Linked DNA regions of Homo sapiens: region 2 is linked to region 1. Evidence: fine-mapped expression QTL. Tissue or cell type: whole blood. Region 1 holds a variant in brackets; the other region holds the start of a gene. All regions are shown on one strand. Distances are from middle to middle.

Region 1 (8,101 bases):
CAAGCTCTGCCTCCCAAGTTCACGCCATTCTCCTGCCTCAGCCCTCCCGAGTAGCTGGGACTACAGGCGCGTGCCACCACGCCCGGCTAATTTTTTTGTATTTTTTAGTAGAGACAGGGTTTCACCATGTTAGCCAGGATGGTCTCAATCCCCTGACCTTGTGATCCACCCGCCTCGGCCTCCCAAAGTGCTGGGATTACAGGCGTGAGCCACCGCGCATGGCCAATTTTTTTTTTTTTTTTTTTTTAATTTTTAGTAGAAACAGAGTTTCACCATGTTGGCCAGGCTGGTCTCGAACTCCTGACATCAAGTGATCCACCCTCCTGGGCCTCCCAAAGTGCTGGGATTACTGGTGTGAACCACCGTGCCAGCCCATGCCTGGCTAATTTTTAAAAACTTTCGGCCAGGCACGGTGGCTCACGCCTATAATCCCAGCACTTTGGGAGGCCCAGGCGGATGGATCACCTGAAGTCAGGAGTTCAAGACCAGCCTGGCCAACATGGCGAAACCCTGTCTCTACTAAAAATTTAAAACTTAGCTGGGCATGGTGGCAGGCGCCTGTAATCCCAGCTACTCGGGAGGCTGAGGCAGAAGAATCGCTTGAACCCGGGAGGCAGAGGTTGCAGTGAGCTGAGATCACGCCATCGCACTCCAGCCTGGGCAGAGGTTTCAGTGAGCCAGAATCACACCACTGCACTCCAGCCTGGATGACAGAACAAAAATTCGTCTCCAAAAAAATTTTTTTTTTCATAGAGACAATGTCTTCCTTTGCTGCCTAGGCTCTAGTCTCAAACTCCTGGGTCAAGTGATCTTTCTGCCTTGGCCTCGCAAAGTGTTGGGATTGCAGACCTGAGCCACAGTGTCCAACCTGTCTAATTTTTGGTGTCTAAGCTTTGTACTGCTTCAGATCCAGGTAGAATGTGGGCTTCCTGGGTTCTCAGCACTAAGTGAGGGCTAAGTGGAGGTCCCAGACATGTTGAAAGCCAGAATGCTATGCTTCCCCTCTCCCCCCATAGAAAATTGACCCTGAGGTGGCCGCCTTCCTGCAGAAGCTACGAAGTAGAGTGCAGATCGGTGTGGTGGGCGGCTCTGACTACTGTAAGATCGCTGAGCAGCTGGGTGACGGGGATGAAGGTAGGAGTGAGGCTGGGGGTAGAGGGAGTGGGGAGTTTGAGAGATTCCTGGGCGTCTTCAAAGATCCAGTCCTGCTTCTGTGGGGCAGAAGAAATAGAGAGAGAGCAGCCAGATAGTTCCCTTACTGATTTGACAAACACTTGAGCACTTCCTATTGCCAGGGATTGTGCCAGGCCCTTGAGAAATGGCTGGGGCAAAGCAAGCAGAACCTGCCCTTATGCAGTTTACATTCTCATTTCTCCCTGCTGAGTCTTGATTTCCTCATCTTTAAAATGGGCTGAACCAGCCGGCACAGTGGCTTACGCCTGTAATCCCAGCACTTTGGGAGGCCGAGGCGGATGGATCACTTGAGATGAGGAGTTCAAGACCAGCCTGGCCAACATGGTGAAACCCCGTCTCTACTAAAAATACAAAAAATTAGCTGGGTGTGTTGGCACGTGCCTGTAATCCCAGCTACTCGGGAGGCTGAGGCAGGAGAATCGCTTGAACCTGGGAGGCGGAGGTTGCAGTGAGCCAAGATCAGGCCACTGCACTCCAGCCTGGGTGACAGAGTGAGGCTACACATCCAAAAATAAATAAATAAATAAATAAATAAATAAATAAATAAATAAAAGGGCAGAACCAATGATGGCTACCATTTGTCAAAAATGATCATGTGTTAATGTCATTGCATTTGATCCCCACAATCACACTTTAGAGTAGGCGTGATCATCCCATTTAACAGAGGATGACTCTGAAGTTATCCAGGAAATCGACTGGACCTCAGAGCCCCTGGTCTCAGCCCAGTCAAAGTGGGTGCCTCCAGTTCCTCAAGCCAGAAACTTCCTCGAATTTTTCCTTTTCCCCACCTCTTGTTTATTCCATCAGCAAACCCCAAAATATCTCCCTGTCCCCTCTGTCTCCATCTCCACCACGCCATCATAGTCCAGGTAACCACGTGCCACCCAGACCCCGCAACAGCCTCTGGGCTGTGCTCCCTGTGCCTCCCACCTCCCACCCACTCCAACTGCTTCGCCTGGCAGTCAGAGCTGAAACCTCCAACTCTCCCATGCAGCCAGCCTTGAGAACCCAGTGCGATGGCAGCTATAGAACAGAAGGGAGCCCCTCTGCAGAGGGGCAGGGGAGCACAGAGTGGAAATGATGCCCTCTGCCAGAGAGTACTGCATGGCTTCCAGAGGAGGAAGCTGAATCTTGGAGGATGAGTGGCAGGGAAGCCAGGGAAGGGCGGTTCTGACAGAAGGACCTGCATGGATGCCTGTGTGCAGAGGCCCACAGGTGTGACTGGCTTCTTTGGAAGAAAACCAAGCTGCAGAGGGAGAAAGGCTGGAGAAGCAGGTTGTAGCCTCAGATTGAACAAATGGCCTTTGAATGTGAAACCAAGGGTGTAGGCTTCCTCTCTCTTTACTTGCCCGTGGGGTCACAGACGTGGTCTCACACTCTTTCTTCCTCCTGTCCTCTATGTGACCCTGAAGTCATTGAGAAGTTTGATTATGTGTTTGCCGAGAACGGGACGGTGCAGTATAAGCACGGACGACTGCTCTCCAAGCAGGTCAGTGTCCCCCAGGGCTTAGCCAGGGGCACCCCACTTTTCCATAGTGGAGCAGTCCAAGGGGGCTTCTGTCCTGGGCTGGGGGAGAGACACTGTGCCTGTCTCAGGGTCAGGCAGCCCAGGCCACGCTCAGAGCCCTGTGTTCCTTGGCCAGACCATCCAGAACCACCTGGGGGAGGAGCTGCTGCAGGACTTGATCAACTTCTGCCTCAGCTACATGGCCCTGCTCAGGCTGCCCAAGAAGCGGTGAGGTCCCACCAGCCTGGTCTCCAGAACCTGGGGCCTGAGGGAGGAGAAGTGTGGGTCCCTCAGAGGGAACCTGGAGATACTTGGGCCCCTGATTTTTTG[C/A]GGGGAGTGTGGATTCTTGTCCCCTTTGAAGTCCTAGGAGGCTGGGGTCCCAGGTGGGGCTAGATTTGAATTCAGGGCCGTTCTGGTTCTCTCTGGCTCCCCGCCCTCCCTCACCACCAGTGGAACCTTCATCGAGTTCCGGAATGGCATGCTGAACATCTCGCCCATCGGCCGGAGCTGCACCCTGGAGGAGAGGATCGAGTTCTCCGAACTGGACAAGGTACCACTAGCTATGCAATCTTAGGCCTGTAGGGCCTCAGTCACTCAATTTATCTGAGCCTTTATTTTCTCATCAGTAAAATAGACTGGGGGATGTGTTCTGATTTAACTGATACCCTTTCAGGCACCTACTGTGTGCCATTGTTGTAGACACACCTGCATCTTTACAATGCTGCTGGTCCCCCTTCCTAGGTGACCAGCACCAGGCAGCCACCCACTGAGCCAGGCCAACACCTGGGAACATCATTTCCACCTTCCCACCCACATCGGGTCCAACAACTCTTATTTCATCAGCCTCTCGAGTCAGTGTCAAATCTGTTCATCTGCAGAACTGAGACCCCACTTTCTAGATTACCCCTTTCCCCAGCCCCAGGCTGCCCCAACTTTCCTCTCTGTCCCTCCCTACCCCTTGCATAGCCCTGCCAGCCTGCTCTCCAGCAATGCCACTGAGAACCTTTCTTTCTTTTTCTTTTTGGAGATAGAGTCTCCAAAAAAATAGATAGAGGCTGGAGTGCAGTGGCATGATCTCAGCTCACTGCAACTCCCACCTCCCGTGTTCAAGCGATTCTCCTGCCTCAGCCTCCCAAGTAGCTGGAATTACAGGCATGCACCACTACACCCAGCTAATTTTTGTACTTTTTTAGTAGAGGCAGGGTTTCACCACGTTGGCCAGGCTGGTCTCGAACTCCTGACCTAAGGTGATCCGCCTGCCTCGGCCTCCCAAAGTTCTGGGATTACAGGCATGAGCCACCACGCACAGCCCATTAGAACCTTTCAAACATGTCAGCCGCATTCACCCCCCAGCCCCACCCCCTCATTTACAATCCTTCCTTGGCTCCTCGTTGCCAACTGGATGATGTCCTAGCCCCCTGCTATGGTGCCTCAAGCCCTGAGGGCTCTGTCTGGCTCTGGCTCTCCGCGTCTCCTTTCTATGCCCTTCAAGTTCCACTTTCTATTCCTGGAACACACCAAGGTCCTCTCACCTCTGCCTGTACTGCCCCTGCTAAACCTTGATGTGCATTTTGCTTTTCTCCCCACCGCCTCCCTCCCTCTCGGGGATGGAGCAATCCACCCATCCAGACCTTTCCATGCTGGCCCGTCCACGTCATTCTGTCATTCTCTCTGACCTGTTCGGTGGCTCTCCCTGCCCTCTGCTCCAGCTATGGCCTCTTGGCTGATTCTAGAGTGCTGTGCCTCTGTCAGAGCACACTTCTCTCAGGCCCAGCTCGTCCCTCCCCTCCTTCAAATCCCCTTTCACATCCTTTTCCCAGTGGGGCCTCCGAGAGTATCACATCCACTGCTGCACTTCCTCCTCCTTCCCCTACCTTATTTCTCCCCAAGTAGCCTTGGACAACTTTCATCATCTACTTTTAAAATCCGAATTACTGTCTGTCCCTGTCCCAGAACTGTAAGCTCCATGAGGGATTTCTGCGGCTTGTTCTCCTCTGGATCCCCTATGCTTGGCACATGGCATACTTTTTGTTGTTATTGTTTTTGAGACAGGGTCTTACTCTGTTGCCCAGTCTGGAGTGCAGTGCAGTGATCCAGTCCTAGCTCACTGCAGCCTCGATCTCTCAGGCTCAAGCGATCCTCACACCTCAGCCTCCTGAGTAGCTGGGACCACAGGTGCATTACACCATGCCAGGCTAATTTTTAAAATATTTTGTAGGGATGGGATCTCGCTGTGTCTCCCAGGCCAGTTTTGAACTCCTAGCCTCAAGTGGGCCTTCTCCCTCAGCCTTCCAAAGCACCAAGACTGTAGGTGTGAGCCACCGCACCTCGCAAAGAAATACCCTTTTTTGTTTTTTTTTTTTTGGAGACTGAGTTTCGCTCTGTCACCCAGGCTGGAGTGCTGTGGCACAATCTCGGCTCACTGCAACCTCCACCTCCCGGGTTCAAACAATTCTTCTGCCCCAGCCTCCCAAGTATCTGGGACTACAGGCACATGCTGCCACGCCCGGCTAATTTTTTTTTTTTAGACAGAGTCTTGCTCTGTCACCAGGCTGGAGTGCAGTGGCACAATCTCGGCTCACTGGAACCCCTGACTCGCTGGTTCAAGCGATTCTTCTGCCTCAGCCTTCCCAAGTAGCTAGGATTACATGCACCACAATGCCCAGCTAATTTTTTGTATTTTTAGTAGAGACGGGGTTTCACCATGTTGGCCAGGATGGTCTCGATCTTCTGACCTCGTGATCCGCCTGCCTCAGCCTGCCAAAGTGCTGGGATTACAGGCGTGGCCACTGTGCCCGGCCTAATATTTTGTATTTTAGTAGAGATGGGGTTTCACCGTGTTGCCCAGGCTGGTCTCGAACTCCTGAGCTCAGGCAATCCACCCACCTCAACCTTCCAAAGTGATTATAGGTGTGAGCCACTGTGCCCGGCAAGAAATACCTTTTGAATGAATGAAATGAGCTGTATTATCTCCATTTTATAAATGAGGAAACCAAGGCTCGATGAGAAGGGCCCTGCCCGAGGTCACATAGGGAGTTGGTTGCAGAGCAAAGATTTGATTTTGCCATTGGCCCTCTGGTGCCTCCCTGAGGGTGCCTCTCAGCTCAGTGACTCCTGACTCCCACCTGTGCCCTGAGGCTTAGGGGAGGCAGTGCCCACAGGCACAGGGACTTTTTTTTTTTTTCTTGATAGAGTCTTGCTCTGTCACCCAGGCTGGAGTGCAGTAGCATGATCTCAGCTCACTGCAACCTTCGCTGCCTAGGCTCAAGCAATTCTCCTGCCTCAGCCTCCTGAGTAGCTGGGATTACAGGCCCATGCCACCACACCTGGCTAAGTTTTTTGGTTTTGGTTTTGGTTTTGGTTTGGTTTTGGGTTTTTTTTTTTTTTTTTTTTTTGAGATGGAGTCTCACTCTGTCGCCAGGCTGGAGTGCAGTGGTGAGATCTCGGCTCGCTGCAACCTCTGCCTCCCGGGTTCAAGCGATTCTCCTGCCTCAGCCTCCCAAGTAGCTGGGACTACAAGCGCCTGCCACCACGCCCAGCTAATTTTTGTATTTTTAGTAGAGACAGGGTTTCACCATGCTGGCTAGGATGGTCTCGATCTCTTAACCTTGTGATCCGCCCTCCTTGGCCTTCCAAAGTGCTGGAATTACGGGCATGAGCCACCGCGCCCGGCCTAATTTTTGTATTTTTTAGTAGGGACAGGGTTTTGCCATGTTCAGGCTGGTCTCAAATCCCTGGCCTCAAGTGATCTGCCTACCTTGGCCTCCCAAAGTGCTGGGATTATAGATGTGAGCCGCTGCGCCCGGCCACGGGGACTTTTTTTTTGGGGTAGTTAGGATTGGTCTTAGGCAAAGAACCCTTCCCCCCCAATACACGTGCTGAGAAGTTATCCCTTCCTGTCCACCCAGGTTCCCAGTCCCAGCTCTACCCATTTGCCTTGTAACCTGGAAAAGCATCTTTACTAACGTGTGCCTCAGTTTCCTTATGTGTAAGGTGGGGGTAATAGCAGTTCCCATCCCATGGGCTGTCATGAGCACTGGATGAGGTGGCACATGGACCCCACCTGGCATGGAGTTGGGGAGCCACACCCTAACTCCCCACCCCAGAGCCTTCTCAAGTATTTTTGGCTCTTGTTTGCTCCCTTCTGGCACTGGAGGAGCATGAACCTTCCTGATCTGTGCGCCCTGCCCTGGCCCAGAGCTGGTGTAAATAAATGCTTAACCCAGCTCATCTTCCAGAACCCTGAAGCGGGGATGAGTACTTCCCTTCCTTAGATGAGGACACTGAGGCCAGAGGGTGAGTAACCAGCTCGAGGTCACAGTGCCGGTCCCTGCTGAGGCTGGCCTTGCACATGGGGCTGTCTAGTGACCAGCCTTGTTCTCCAGAGAAGGGAGGTGCAGCCAGCCTCGGCCATGTGGAAACATTTCTTCAGAGCCTGGGGCAGTCTTAGTGGTAGCCCTGGGCCTACAGAGTGGACGCTGGTGGGGACTCTGGCCTCCCTGGGGCCCACCTACCTGCTGGAAAGCCAGGCCAAGGCTGGCAGGGGGCTCACATCCCTTATCTCTGCTTTTCCATGAGAGGGAAGCAGGCAGGGGTCATTCATTACTTCTCTGTCCTTTAGTCCAGGAAATAGGCTCAGAGAGGTCAGGTGACTTGCCCATGGTCACACAGCTGAGGAGTACAGTAGCCAAGCCTGGCTACTTGCCTTCAGATCTCAGGCTAGGGGGTGTCTGGCTTTATATCTGACATCCTCCCTGGGCCACTTCTCCAAGCTCCATGCTGCTGACCACTGCCTGCCTTTCCGCCCCAGTCCTACCCGGCTCTGACTACAGGGCCATACCAGCCACCCCACTCCTGTGCTCCAGAATCCTCAGCGCCTCTTGGTCCCCCAGGATGTGGTCAGACTTCCCAGCCCGGTCTCGAGACCCTCTGTCAGCTGAATGTCCTGCTGGCTGGTTTAGATGTTCAGCTGCCCCTCAGACTGGGCATAGCTGCTCCCCTTTGTGGCCCTCTGAGATGGAGATCCTGGGGGCTGGCGGGGAGAATGTCCCCCTGCTCCACGTTTGCGGAGCTGCTGCCAGAGTTCCTGCTCAGAGGGACGGGGCCGGCCTGGGCACTACCTAGTCCCCAGCCCAGCCGCGTCTTTGCATGCTGGGTGCTCTGCCATGCCTGGCATCCTGCTGCCCTCTGTGAATGCCCACAGCCACCTCCTCACAGGTCTCCTGCTCTCAGCTCCCATGCTCATTTCTGAGTATTTGCTTTGTTGAGCTGGTTACAGATAACAGGATCGAGCCCTGCCCTGAGGTGGACACTGATGTGGGATCCAGATTGCCCCGTCTCCTCGCCCTTCCTACTCGTGTCTCTCCTCTGAGGTCTCCTTCAGAAGACCCAGCCCACAGC
Region 2 (8,101 bases), 39 kb after region 1:
TGGCTCATGCCTGTAATCCCAGCACTTTGGGAGGCCGAAGCTGAGGATCACTTGAGGTCAAGAGTTTCAGACCAGCCTGGCCAACATGGCAAAACCTTGTCTCTACTGAAAGTACCAAAATTATCCAGGTGTGGTGGTGCACGCCTGTAATCCCAGCTAGTCTGGAGGCTGAGGCAGAAGAATCGCTTGAAATGGGGAGGTGGAGGTTGCAGTGAGCCCTGATAGCGCCACTGCACTCCAGCCTGGGCAACAGAGCTGGTTAATTTATAAAGAAAATAGGCTGGCTGGGCACGGTGGCTCACGCCTGTAATCCCAGCACTTTGGGAGCCCAAGGCGGGTGGATCATGAGGTGAGGAGATCGAGGCCATCCTGACTAACACGGTGAAACCTCATCTCTACTAAAAATACAAAAAACTAGCTGGGCGTGGTAGCGGGTGCCTGTAGTCCTAGCTACTTGGGAGGCTGAGGCAGGAGAATGGCATGAACCCGGGAGGTGGAGCTTGCAGTGAGCCGAGATCATGCCACTGCACTCCAGCCTGGGCGACAGAGCAAGAATCCGTCTCAAAAAAAAAAAAATAGGTTTAGTTGGCTCATGGTTCCACAGGCTTTACAGCAAGCATGGTACTGGCATAGGCTCAGCTTCCAGGGATGCCTCGGGAAGCTTCCCATGATATCGGAAATCAAAGGAGGAGCAGGCACATCACATGGGGAAAAGAGGAGCAAGAGAGAGAGTGGGAGGAGGGAGGTGCTACACACTTTTTTTTTCAAGATGGAGTTTTGCTCTTGTTGCCGAAGCTGGAGTACAATAGCGCGATCTCTGCTCACCAGAACCGCCACCTCCTGGGTTCAAGCGATTCTTCTGCCTCAGCCTTCCTGAGTAGCTGGGATTACAGGCATGCGCCACCACGCCCGGCTAATTTTGTATTTAGTAGAGACGGGGTTTCTCCATGTTGGTCAGGCTGGTCTTGAACTCCTGACCTCAGGTGATCCGCCCACCTTGGCCTCCCAAAGTGCTGGGATTACAGGCATGAGCCACACGCCTGGCCACCACACACTTTTTTTTTTTGAGACGGAGTCTCACTTTGTCGCCAGGCTGGAGTGCAGTGGTGTGATCTCAGCTCACTGCAACCTCTGCCTCCCGGGTTCAAGTGATTCTTCTGCCTCAGCCTCCCAAGTAGCTGGGACCACAGGCGCGTGCCACCACGCCCGGCTACTTTTTTTTTTTTTTTTTTTTTTTTGTATTTTTAGTAGAGACAGAGTTTCACCGTGTTAGCCAGGATAGTCTCAATCTCCTGACCTTGTGATCCACCCACCTCGGCCTCCCAAAGTGATGGGATTACAGGTGTGAACCACCACGCCTGGCCCCGCCACATACTTTTAAATGACCAGATATTGGCTAGTCACGGTGGCTCATGCCTGTAATCTCAGCACTTTGAGAGGCCAAGATGGGGGGGATCACCTGAGGTCAGGAGTTCGAAACCAGCCTGGCCAACATGGTGAAATCTTATCTAAAAATACAAAAGTTAGCTAAGTGTGGTGGTGGGCACCTGTAATTCCAGCTATTTGGGAAGCTGAGGCAGGAGAATCGCTTGAACCCAGGAGGTGGAGGTTGCATTGAGCTGAGATCATGCCACTGCACTCCAGTCTGGGCGACAGAGCAAGATTCCGTCTCAAAAGAAAAAAAAAAGAAAAGGCCTGAACCGAAGCAATAGCAGTGGGAGTGGAATGAAGAGGAAACATTTGAGAGGAAGAATTAATGGTAATCCCTAAACACCTTTACTCAATGCTTCCTAGGAATGTGTTAGGGGATTGTGGGAATAAAGAGCTGAAGTAGCATTTGCTGCTGTCCTCAAGTACCTCAAATCCTATAGAAGCACACCTAAAAATAAAATCATAGATGCAGGGAAGGCCACATTTAGCATCACTGCAGCCAGTGTCACTGAGAGATCACTATGCTTGTGAAATCAGCAAATTAAGGCACCATACATTTCCAAGTGCCTCTGTCATTTACCCCAAGTATCTTTTGTAAGTACCTAAATTGTTATTTTGGTTAAAACACACTACAAGCCCGGGCGCGGTGGCTCACACCTGTAATCCCAGCACTTTGGAAGGCTGAGGTGGGCAGATCATGAGGTCAGGAGATCGAGACCATCCTGGCTAACACGGTGAAACCTCGTCTCTACTAAAAAAAAATACGAAAAATTAGCCAGGCGTGATGGTGGGCGCCTGTAGTCTCAGCTACTCGGGAGGCTAAGGCAGGAGAATGGCGTGAACCCGAGAGGCGGAGCTTGCAGTGAGCCAAGATCGCGCCACTGCACTCCAGCCTGGGCGACAGAGCGATCCTCCGTCTCAAACAAACAAACAAACAAAAAAACCCACTACAGTATACATCTACACCCCACCAATTTTTAGAGGCAGGGTAGTGAGGTTCAGACTGGGCCCACCTCTACCACTTGTCAACACGTGATCTTGGGTAAGCTACCAAATTCTCTTAGCCCATGCTATCACGTGAAGATGAATGAGACTGGAATGTCAGCGAGACAGAGCATGATGGGGCTATAGGAGGGGGGTATGGTCAGATCTTGCAGGGCCGTGTGAACTACCATAAAGGTTTTGGACTTTTCTTCTTTCTTTCTTCTTTTCTTTCTTCTTTCCCTTTTCTTTCTTCTTTCTTCTTCTTCTTCTCCTTCTTCTTTCTTCTTCTTCCGCCTCTCCTTCTTCTTCTTTTTCGTTTAGACATGAGGTGTCACTGTCACCCATGCTAGAGTGCAGCATGCAACCTCAAACTGCAACCTCAAACTCCTGGACTCAAGCGATGCTGCTGTCTCAGGCTTCTGAGTAGGTGGGACTACGGGTGTACACCACCACGCCCGGCTTGGATCTAGTATTCTAAGTTCAATGGGTTGTGTTTTTTGTTCCAATTTATTATAACTTTTCAATTGGAACATAATGTCTACAAATAAATGCAAAAATCTTGCCGAGTTCAATTAGTTTGGACAATTATATACGTCAATGTTATACCACCGAAAACAAAATACAGAACATTTCCATCATCTCAGAACAGTCCCAAGTGCCCCTTTCCTGCTAATTCTCCTTGTCTCCGGAACACTTAAGGGTGCTAAGCATGTTATGTTTGCGGTGGGTTTTTTTTTTAACTTAGATGTGGTAATATATGTTTGCGTTTCCAAAGGATCACTCTGGCTGCCGAGCAGAGGACAGCAATGCGGGTAAAGCACAGGCCAGGCGAGGGATAATCAGGCGGGATTGCACGGAGGTCGCCTAGCAACAGAAAGCGCTGTCGGGGGCGGGGGAACCGCTCTGCTCCTGTGAAAGGAGGAGGCCCCGCCCTCTCCTCGCCCTCTCTCTGCCCCACGCTGTGCGCGAGCACACAGGCAGCCCCGCCCCGCCTCGGCGGGGTGGGGGTGGACAGAGGTTTCTTATTGGTGAGTTTTCCGGAAGCGATGGATTCGGAATCTCGCCCGCAGTCGCGCAAGCGCGAGCGGCTGTGCGCGGTGCGTGGTGCGTGGTGCGTGATACGAGCGGCGGCACGTGGCGCGGGTGCGGGGCGTGGAGTGGCGTGGCGTGGAGTGGCGTGGCGTGGCGGGGTCTCGCGGCGCGGGCGCGCACCCGGAGCTGTGGACGGAGAGTGCCTCCCTCTGGCCTCAGTTTCCTCATGTTGTAGTAGCGGAGCATGGCCCGGACCGGGCCCCCGAGACCGCCCCGTGCAACCTCACCGCCAGCCTGGGGGCCTCAGCGACTGGGACGGGACCAAGGGGCTCGGGGATTCTCCCTGCCCCCGGCCCTGGTGCGTGACTGACCCTCCTGTTCCCAGAGCCCCCAGCGCAGGCCGGGATGTTCGTCCTGGTGGAAATGGTGGACACCGTCCGGATCCCCCCTTGGCAGTTTGAGAGGAAGCTCAACGACTCCATTGCCGAGGAGCTGAACAAGAAGTTGGCCAACAAGGTACTGGGCCCACGGCTCGCGGGCAGGCCTTGGCGTGGGAGAGCGAGCGCCGCCCACTGGCCGCAGGCCCGGCCTCGGTCATGCCAAGCCCTGGCCGTGGGCAAGCAGCTTAATGTCTCAGAACTTTTCTTCACCGTGAAAGGAGATATTGAAGGGGATCAAAAGAAAATGGGCTTGAAAAAGGGAGTTGTAACTGGAAGTGTTAGATTCCACAATTCTAAATTACTTTGCAATTGCAGGCAAGTTACTGACCCCTTCTGGGCCTCAGTTTCCATTTTTAAAATGGGGATAAAATATTGCTGTCCTTCCAGCCATGCATTGTTTTTGTTGTTGTTGTTGTTTGTTTTGTTTTGTTTTGTTTTTTGTTTTTGAGACGGAGTCTTGCTCTTTCGTCCAGGCTGGAGTGCAGTGGCGCGATCTCGGCTCACTGCAACCTCCGCCTCCCGGGTTCAAGCGATTCTCCTGCCCCAGCCTCCCGAGTAGCTGGGACAACTACAGGCGCGCGCCACCACCCCCAGCTAATTTTTGTATTTTTCGTAGAGACGGGGTTTCACCATTTTGGCCAGGATGGTCTCGATCTCTTGATCCCCCCGCCTCGGCCTCCCAAAGTGCTGGGATTACAGGTGTGCGCCATCGCCTCGGGTCAATGCATTGTTTTCGTGAAGATGGAGAGTTCTAGTAGTACAGAATTAACTGTCAGGAGGTTCATCCCTTCATTCCAGCAGCCAATATTTGTGCGCCTTCTCTGTGCTGTGCCTGTGTGCCTTAGTACCAGCTGAGAGGTCTTCCCACTGCCGTTTCTTTGACAGTCCTCCCTTTCCAGGTATTCTGTGTCACATCACTCTCTTTCCTTCTTAGACTTTTTCCTTTCCCTCTCCTTGAGAGCAGGGACCTTATCTGCCTTCTTCCCTGAAGTATCCCCTCATTTAGCCAAAGCCTGGCGGGAGTAGATGTCCCATAATTTTCTGTTTTGTGTTTGTGTGTGTGAGACAAGAGTGCCGCTCTTGTCGCCCAGGCTGGGGTGCAATGAAGCGATCTTGGCTCACTGCAACCTCCACCTCCCAGGTTCAAGCTATTCTTCTGCTTCAGCCTCCTGAGTAGCTGGGATTACAGGCACCTGCCACCACACCTGGCTAATTTTTGTACTTTTAGTAGAGACGGGGTTTCACCATGTTGGCCAGGCTGGTCTCAAACTTCTGACCTCAGGTGATCTGCCTGCCTCAGCCTCCCAAAGTGCTGGAATTACAGGTGTGAGCCACCGTGCCCGGCCATTTGTTGACTGAATGAATGAAACAGAGACAAGGCTCTGTGCTATAGTGTGGTGGGAAAGCAGATATGAATGAGAAGGGTCCACAGTTGAGTGTTTGGTGACAAATTGAGGTAAATGTTATGAGGGACAGGTGTTCACACACCTGTGGAACAAAGGAACGTCCCCTGGAATGAGGGGACCTGCAGCTTTGTTGAGGAGGTGGGGTTGAAGGTGAGATCTGATGGTGAAGTGGAGCCAACCAGAGGATTCCTTTCTAGGGTGGGAGGGGGCTGGGTGGAGAGAAGAGCCCTGAAGGCAGGAACTGGCATGTGCAAAGGCCCTGTGAAGAAGGAATACAGGCCGGGCGTGGGGGCTCACACCTGTAATCCCACCACTTTGGGAGGCTGAGGCGGGTGGATCACCCAAGGTCAGGAGTTTGAGACCAGCCTGTCCAACATGGTGAAGCCCCATGTCTACTAAAAATACAAAAAATAGCTGGGCATGGTGGCAGGCACCTGTAATCCCGGCTACTTGGGAGGCAGAGGGAGAAGAATCACTTGAACCCAGGAGGCAGAGGTTGCAGTGAGCTGAAATCGCACCACTGCCTTCCAGCCTGGGTGACAAGAGTGAAACTTCGCTTCAAAAAAAAAAGAAGAAGGGGTAAAATACCCACCATGGTGTGGAAGAGGCTGGTGTGGCTTGGGCAGAGGGGAGGGTGGGCTGGACAGGTGGGTGGGGGCCAGGCCACACAGCCCTGTAGGATGTCGGAGTTGAGGTATTGGTCTTTATCCGTGGAGCATCAGAAGGTGATGGGCTGAGAAGGAGCCAGAAAGAGGATGCTTAGCTGGCTTTACGCATGAGACAGGTCCCTTCAGAAGAGGTGAGGTTGATTTGGGGGTTGCTAGATAGTGAAGGGAACTCATGGAGTCTTTAAGTGGATGGCTTCTGGTTACTTTGTGAGGTTGAAGATGAGGGTCTGTTGGGGGATGGAGGTGTGGACCTTGAGAGAGAAGGTGTGGAAAGTCCAAGAAGGGAATATAGTCCCTTTGGGGTAGAGGTCCTGTTGGGACAAGTCTTCTAGTATTTGATTAGATGAATCGTTTGAGAGGGGGCCCACACAGAAATCCATGGTCTGACAAAGGGCACAGATCTTGTGGCATTATCTTGGTGAGGTCTGGCCACGACTCTGAGTTCTCTGAGCTTCTTGCTAATTCTTGGACAGTTCTTGCAAGGGTTCTAAGTGGGGGTGATGACACGGTGGCAGATAAGGAGACACTGAGTAGCCAGTCGTTTGAACCACAGTGGTGTGGGGTGAGGGCATGGGATTTCTGCACATTCTTGGGGCCTAGGTCTTGTGTCCCTCTGCCAGCTGCAGTCCCTGTGGCTGCGTCTGTGTGTCTGAGATGTTGTGAGCACAGTGGGGTTTAGCTGTGGCTGTGACGCTCACTAAACTGTGAGCTCTGGCATTGGCTTTGGGATGTCGGAGAGTGCACGTTTAGGCAGCATTCCTGTCACTGGTCCTCACTAGTAATAACAAAGATCCTTGATGATGATGGTTTCCAATACACGAGCCAGGTACAAGGCTAGGGGCTTCACATCTGTTATCTCTCTTTATTTTATAACTCTGCAGCCTGGTATTTCACATTTGCAGATGGGGAGACCGAGGCTCAGAGAGGTGAAGTGACCCTCTTGGCAGTCACACAGTGGGTGGTGGAGCTGGCCTTGGAACCTGGACCTGTTTTGTCACCCGAGGCCCTGCTCCTTCCAGAGCTCTGCATCCTTCTGAGGTTCCTTACCCTGGTCCCCTCCACAAACTCATTTTCACCTAAAAAAGGAGATAATCATGGCTTGCTTGTGGTTGTGAGGGGCTCAGATTGCCTGGGAGCTGGGCCTGTGGTCACTCTGTATCCATGTGTACTTGTGTGTCTGTGTTTGTATGCATGCAGGTCGTGTACAACGTGGGACTCTGCATTTGTCTGTTTGATATCACCAAACTGGAGGATGCCTATGTATTCCCTGGGGATGGCGCATCACACACCAAAGGTGGGTATCTTCTGTCCCTGGGGCATTGGGCTTCTTGGGGCTCAGTTTTCTGTAGCCAAAGGTCAAGCCAAATCCAGGTTCAGTGGTGCGTGCCTGTAAGGCTGAGGGCGGAAGGATCTCTTGAGCCACAGAGTTCAAGGCCAGCCTGGGCAACATAGCAAGACCCTGTCTTTAAATACATAAATAAAATATGAAAAAATTTTAAAAGGCTAAAGTCAAAGAGATGGCCAGAGGGTGGTGGGAGTCCTGGAGGCTGGGAGACGTGGGGCCTCATCCTGAATCGGCCAGGAATTGACCCGGTGACAGCGGCAGACTTCTCTTCTCTGGGCCTCTGTTCCCTCATCTGTGAGGCCTGGGATGTGGACTAGTTGGTTTTCAAGGCCTCTTCAGCTCTGACTTCATAGCTCTGTGTCTGTGCCCTTTTGGTCTCATTGCTACTGAGCCCTGCACCTTGTCCATTCCTCGGGCTTCCCGCTGCCTGTGGAGAGCAGACGGAAGGGGGATCAGCAGGCTGGCTGGGGGTGGGGGACTTGGATAGTAGGACACAGTAGGTAAGAGTGTGGCCTCAAGATTAAAAGCTGAGCTCTGCTTCTTACTAGCTGTGTGTCCTGGCTGAATATGTCATTGCTCTGTGCCTCTGCTTCCTTATCTGTCAGTTGCAGTTCAGGATGTCAACTGCAGTTTAGGATAGATTTTATATTCTAAGACCATTGTGAGGATTAAGGAGTTAATACATGAAAGCTCTTAGGACAGAGCCTTGGCACCTAACGAGCACTCAGTGACTTATCAGCGTGGATTGTTTCTCCCTATTCTGTCGGTCAGTTGGGTGGTTTTCCTCTCATCTGG

What was found. PIP is the estimated chance that this variant, and not a neighbour inherited with it, causes the effect.
Region 2: it holds the start of POLR3H, and the variant in region 1 is fine-mapped to the expression of POLR3H in whole blood (TOPMed, PIP 0.97).

What each region holds. Positions count from the first base shown.
Region 1 is chr22:41,579,109-41,587,209 of GRCh38, reverse strand. PMM1 (phosphomannomutase 1) reads left to right here. Exons shown (of 8, transcript NM_002676.3): 2 at 1,017-1,134; 3 at 2,607-2,683; 4 at 2,838-2,929; 5 at 3,152-3,251. Among named protein-coding and RNA genes, the nearest start is that of PMM1, 6.7 kb to the left of the region's middle. The variant C/A (reference allele first, on the strand shown) is at 3,032.
Region 2 is chr22:41,539,853-41,547,953 of GRCh38, reverse strand. POLR3H (RNA polymerase III subunit H) reads left to right here and starts at 3,484. Exons shown (of 6, transcript NM_001018050.4): 1 at 3,484-3,963; 2 at 7,159-7,255. The coding sequence starts at 3,853. RefSeq lists silencers at 3,294-3,393, 3,584-3,713 and enhancers at 3,764-3,853, 3,864-3,963, 3,286-4,123.